2 linked regions of the Homo sapiens genome follow. The protein of the gene in region 2 purifies or fractionates together with the protein of the main gene of each other region. This does not show direct contact. Each region holds a gene or a part of one and is shown on either strand. Other genes may lie near its edges.

Region 1 (3,500 bases), on a different chromosome or scaffold from region 2:
CTCCATGAAAAACTGGACTGACTCAGGACCCAGGTATCCTGCCTCCTGTGTCCAGCACACCTGTGGGCACGGCCTGTCAAAGGATGCAACTGGGAGCCAGGCCTGGTGCCCGGGGAATTTGCCACGCCTGCCACTGTGGTGATGGGTGAGGCCAGTGGCGCAAGCCCGTGTGACTGGCAGACCCACCATGGCACTGTCCCAAGGGTCTGGCCTGAGCACCTCACTTTGCCTTGCAGCTTCTCAGCCCCAAGCGCTCTGCCCACGGCCATGCCTCATCAAGGGAGCCTGACCTCACTCATCTGCTGAGATGTCCCCTCTGCCCAGAACCACACATGGGGCTGAACTTGTGGCAACCACAGGGTAAGGGGCCAGAACCCTGGAGAGCACACAGATACACACTGGGAACAGGGTGGACGCAGCCGCCTGCGTACACACCTGCCTGCCCGTCCGTCATTCGTTTCCCCCAGGCACACCATCAACACCTAGGCACAGTTCCAGGGAGACCCCTGATGCGAGGAGGGGAGGGAGGCAAGCCCGCCTCCCCAGCTGCCTGAGGAAAGCCAAAGATCCTCTCTCTCAGAACACTCAGGCTCCTAGCACCATGGCCACTGCCTAGAGCTGTCCAGGTTCCCTGGCTGGGGCACAGGTCCAAAGCTAGAACCATTGTTGCTCTCCGCTGAACCTAAAGAATAAAGCTTGCCTTAGGACTGGGTGAAGCAAGGAGTGACCTCGGAGGCCAGTGCTCCCAAGTGGAGAGGCTGAGCCCTTGTCTCCCAGCATCACCCTCCCCTAGCCCCAGGGTACCCACAACTTCGTGACTCCTTGTTTGCCCCCACTCCCCCATCCCCAGGGTCAAAGGCCTCTCTCTTAAGGGCAGACTTGAAATCTGTGCTCAGGGAATCCTGCTGGGCAAGACAGCCCCTCCCTTGCCTGCCACGGCCTCCACCGCTGCCACTCCTGGCTGTGGCCCCCTTCGTGTGCTAGACCTTCTGTCCTGGCTGGGCCTCAGCACACTGCCCTGCTGCTTCACCCGGCTCCCCACCCTCTCCAGCAACTCCACTCTCAAGCCCCCACCGCTTCACACTGGGTCCAGGTCTCCCTCGGGCTGCGCCCATGCCACTGTGAAAGAATCCCAACACCTGCTTTTACGTCGTCCCCTTTCCACCAGGACCTGGGATTATCCCTTCTAAACAGCTCTTAACCCCATCTCTGCCAGATTTGCAGACTCAAGATGGGGTTGCAGGGGTGGCTGCTGTTCCTGGACCTATATGCTGGTAGGAGACTGGTGCTGGCAGGAGCTTCATGGATTTGCCAAACTATCACATGGATTGATCATGGATGCCCGGCGGAGCCTCACACTCTCTTGCCCTGTGGCCTCCACACCCTGAGTACTTCAGGCATGGGACATGACACCTGCACTCCACACCCTGTTCCCTCTGCCCCCACCTTGCTGGAGCTGCCTCAGTTATCGTGCAGCAGGGCCAGGCCTGCGCCTGGTTCCCTTTCTGGCTGCAGACTGTCCTGGACCTCACGAGTCCTCTTGCTTCCAGGAACCCACGACAGCAGGAACAAGCAGAGGAAAACCCCCGGCCCCACTTACTGTCTGGTTATCCTCGTAGAGTTTCAGGTCGTAGCCGCTGAGCTCCACACAGAAGATGATGGCTGTGACGCCCTCGAAGCAGTGGATCCACTTTTTGCGCTCTGACCTCTGCCCCCCCACGTCCACCATCTTGAAGGTGAGCTCCTTGAAGGTGAACTTGTTCTCCACAATGCCCGTGGTCATGTCCCGGGAGCGCAGGATGTCCTCGACAGTGGGGATATAGTCAGCTGCGGCGATGCGCTCCAGGTCGTTCAGGTAGTAGGCCGCGTTGTCCTCCAGGTGGTACTCGCTGGAGCGGCTGAAGCAGGCCTGTGCCCCTGGGTCGGCCCAGAGCCGTCGCATGACACCCAGCAGCTCGGGTGTGATCTCGCCCTTGCTCTCAGCGGGGCCCGTCAGCGCAAAGAGCTGCACAGCGTCGTAGGCGCGGTCGGGGTTGTGGAAGTCGATCCTGAGGGCGGCCAGGGCCCGGATGATGCGGGTCAGCGAGTCGATGGCATTGTAGATGATGAGGGGCTTGTACTCCTTGCAGGCCTCCAGGTTGAAGCCGCCGCTGTGGATGATCTTCATCTGTTTGACGATGGTGCTCTTGCCTGAGTTGCTGGTGCCCAGCAGGAGCAGCTTGATTTCGCGGCGTTGCCGCTGGCTCTCTGAGCGCAGGTGGCGGTCAATTCTCCGGGACCGCCGGGCTGCTTCTTTTTCCTCTGAGCTTTGCCGACATCCCATGGTCTGGCAGCAGCGGGCCCAGACAAGGAGCACGGGATGGGGCACCTCTCCCTCTTGCCACAGGGGACACTGAGACCAGGCAGACAAGAGCCCAGCTGCCCTGGAGGCACTCAGTGCCAGCAGGGGGGTGAGGCCGAGCCACACTGCAGCCCCTGCCCCAGCGCCTCTTCTCCAGCCGGCATGGCGCTCTGTGCAGCGGGCGGTGGCCGCCCCTCCCCACTAGTGACACTCCACCTCCCTAGTTGGCAAAGTGGCCTGATTTGCCGTAGTCATTCCCTGTCCTCGGCGACGGTGGGAAGCCGTCCGCTTGTGTTTGCCTCGGCTGCTGCCGTCTGGTTGCTGGTTGCTGTGGCGATGTTGCTGAGTGGCTGGAGGGTTGGAGGGCCGGTCGCTGGTGTGCTCCCTGCAGCCCCCCGCCTCCGGCTCCCACTGTGCATCCAGCCCTTCACCTGCCAAACACAGAGAAAAGCGTGAGCCTCCTCCCCGCAGCCCCACCTCAGGCTGGACAGTGAAAGGGAGCTCTTCTGAAAGCAAAGCAGCAGAGACTGGCCTTGGAAAATGAGCCGGCAACAATCCATCCAACCCCCTCTCCTCCATGGGGCGCTGTAGGGCCCACACCATGGTGTAACACATATGTCTGCTGTTGCCTGGACAGTCCACCTGAAGCCAGGTGCATGAGGGAGAGGAGGGTGTGTGCGAGGCCTCTGCCCACCCAGCCCCCATGCTGGACTCACTTCTACCGCATCCAGTTAGGATTCAATAAGGTCACCCTGTTGTGATGCCCCCTGGGGCCCTTCTCCCAGACAGCACTGATAGAGCTCAGCCTTGCCCTGTTTTACACGGGTGGCCAGGCCTCGGCCCAGCCCTGGGATAACTGAGCGCCTCCCTGACTCTCATTACCCCCGCAGGAGCTGGGTCACTTCTGATCACAGGGAGGAAAAGCACCAGGAGGGAGACCTGGCCCCTGCTTTCCCTTGAGGGCACTCTGATGGGCCAGCCCAGGAGCCAGCAGATAGGCAGGGACCAGAGCAAGGTGGAGGCTTCAGGCTGTGGGAGCACCGTGAGGTGCCTAAGCACAGTGGGCAGGGGCTGCCTCACTCCTGCAGAAGGAGGTAGAGGGGGGCTTGGGCTGAGACCAAGGAGCTGGGGGCTGCACGTGGTGCTGCGGGGAAATCCA
Region 2 (2,935 bases):
CTTTAGATTCAAGCAACCTTCCAACAATAAAAATAATAATGCAACAATTAAAGTTGTATTAATTAAAAATACGGTATAACAACTAATAGCATTTACATTGTATCAGATATTACAATAATCTAGAGATGACTTAGTATGTGGGAGGATTTACGTAGTTTATATGCAAACACTACACCATTTTATATTAGTGACTTGAGCATCTGTGGATTTTGGTATCTGAGGAGGTCCAGGAACCAATTATTTCCCAGGGATGCCAAGAGGTGACTGTATTCTCAAAATAATCTGTAACCTCCAAAAAGTTAAGAGACACTGAGCTATGATATTTTTAGAATTGTGTTTTAAAGAACAAATCAGTACCTGATTTAATAAGTCACACTCAAGCTTAATTCAAACAGAAATATTAATTTGCAAAATATACAGATGCATATTCATCATGAGGCAGAAAGGCCTTTTAAATAGCTTTGAAAATGTGGAACATCAATTTGTGTTGTTCTTCCATGGGAGAAAAAGGATTACTAAGTCTCAGGTAAGCCTCCAAAAAATATTTCCATCTGCCCCTGGCTTCCGTACTATCCAAGCTTGTCTTGAAACCTTGAAATAAATTTCAAGGTGACAACCTAAATTTAACTCTGCGGTAGTGGGTTGTGGATTTCTCAGCATTTTCCTTTTTAGTTAGCATGGAAGTCAAAAGTTACAAAAGCAATGAGATTCTGCATCTTTTAATGAAAGATAAAACAACAATATAAACATACACAAATTTACAGAGAAGGGATCAACTTTAATACATTTGGAGTAAAAGGTGTTTCTTCTTTAAATATGGTATAAAAATAAATGCGAGAAACATTAACGGAGAATGTACAGACAACAGACGAAGACATGAGTTTGTTTCTGACTGTGACACATTGGTGAAATGAAACTTTCTGTGCGGAATTTATTGTTTAATAAATGTGAAGCCACATGTATACTTATTGATATATACTTTTTTCTTTTACAGTTCTTCCAGTTTTTGACTGACTGAATTTTCAGTGAACTGTGTGTCTAACTGAAGCTTTGAGAGAGAGAGAGAGAGAAAGAAGGAAAAAAAGAAAAGGTTTTACTTCACTTGAACTTGTTAAAAAGGAAGAGACACAGATCCAGCATAGTAGAAGGAGAAAGAAAGCAGACAACAGTTTGGAATGGAGGCATTGAGACGGAAGAGTCCATTGGAGATGGAATGTACACACAAAAATAACAATTTAGGTCCTTTGCTCATGCAACATCTTGTTCTAATGTCCTCTGCTCCAGGTCACAACATTGAGCTACAAAGTGTGTGCAGTGACTCCAGTCTGCATTCATGCTACAAGATGATCCGTTTAGTAAGACTGAGCAAGGCTTGTTAACCTCTTGGACGTGAGAGATTTCCCCTGAGAAAATATATAAAACAAGAGAAAAGAAAGAAAATCAAGTACGATCACTGAAAACCTGCTTAGTAGTAGCAACTATTTACTGTAGCTGATTTTTGTGCAAGGTCAACACTGAACCCTTTAAGTCCATCTTAGTTCAAACCTCATGACCAACCTGCCTTCCCCCCTCCCTCCCTCCACTGACACGTCAAACAAAACTATCCTCCCTCCCTCCACCCTCCTACCCCTCCCAAATCCTTCCTCCCCACTGCAAACAGACTGATGGTTTCACAGCACAGATTAGCAAATCATAAAACATATCCATAAATGCTCCATCAAGGCTTAGCAATGAAGCAACACCTAGGTTCCCAACTGATTATAAACATGTTACAACAAATCTTAGTAAGCTGCTCTGAAAGATAATGTGAGTGCATTCTTGTTCAATGGCTGAAATTAATGTCACATTTATAAATATCTAGAAATGTAGAGGATACGATTTAATTAAATAAAATGCAGTTTTTGAGGGTGTGATTCATGAAACTCAAGATTGAGTCTGTTCCCTATCTTACATAATAATGGATAAAAAGGTGCCAATTATATATCTGAAGATAAAAGTCTACTTGTTCCCTGTTTCTAGCTGTTGATGTCTTCCTGTTCTTTCCTACCTGACTTCTTCCAACCCTAATACAAGAAAAAATCTGTTCTATTCTGATTCCACAAATCATATGATTACATAAAGCACATACTTATGTTTTAGAAATCTTGTAAGTCAACAGTGTTGCTGTTAATCACAAGTACTCTAGAGAGATAAGAAATTTGAGACCGGGCGCAGTGGCTCACGCCTGTAATCCCAGCATTTTGGGAGGCTGAGGTGGGCAGATCACCTGAGGTCAGGAGTTCGAGACCAGCCTGGCCAACATGGTGAAACTCCGTCTCTACTAAAAGTACAAAAATAAGCCAGGCGTGGTGGCGGGCACCTGTAATCCCAGCTACTCAGGAGAATCACTTGAACCCAGGACGCGGAGGTTGCAGTGGGCTGAGATCGCGCCACTACACTCCAGCCTGGGTGACAAGAGCGAGACTCTGTCTCAAAAAAAAAAATAGAAATTTGAAACGTTTGATCGGAATGCAAAACTGCTGGTTTTCATTTCATGTCTTATTTTATATGTTCTATTATAAAATTATGTGGGCCAGTTATTTAATGAATTTTTGTACATCTCAGAAGATAAGTAAAAATTAAAAAATTGGAAACATATATTTTAGTAATAAATCACAGTCATAGCAATACTCTTGATTTGCTACCTAATGTGGCTCAGTTTTAGAAAGGGGTCAGCGGTGATGGGAGATACATCATCACTCATGGCCATTGCCTTAGTCTGTTTGGGCTGCTATAACAGAAAACGATAGACTAAGTGGCTTATAAACAACAGAAATTTATTTCTTATAGGACTGGGAAGTCCAAGATCTAGACACTTATAGATTCTTTGTCTAGTGAGGGCCTTCTCCTTGGTTCATCAATGGTGCATTCTCGTTGTGTCCTCAGATAATGGAAG

What was found. The genes of interacting proteins can lie anywhere in the genome.
Region 1: the proteins of RGS7 (region 2) and GNAZ purify together in Homo sapiens (affinity purification with western blotting, with the first as the bait; one study listed by BioGRID). This does not show direct contact.

Annotation. Positions count from the first base shown.
Region 1 is NC_000022.11:23,094,519-23,098,018, reverse strand, and holds part of GNAZ (guanine nucleotide-binding protein G(z) subunit alpha), read right to left. Parts: intron 2,773-3,500; 5' UTR 2,324-2,772; coding exon 1,601-2,323; intron 1-1,600. UniProt on the Homo sapiens protein: Guanine nucleotide-binding proteins (G proteins) are involved as modulators or transducers in various transmembrane signaling systems.
Region 2 is NC_000001.11:240,774,811-240,777,745, forward strand, and holds the end of RGS7 (regulator of G-protein signaling 7), read right to left. Parts: intron 1,404-2,935; coding exon of another isoform or gene 1,353-1,403; 3' UTR 704-1,352; downstream 1-703. UniProt on the Homo sapiens protein: GTPase activator component of the RGS7-GNB5 complex that regulates G protein-coupled receptor signaling cascades.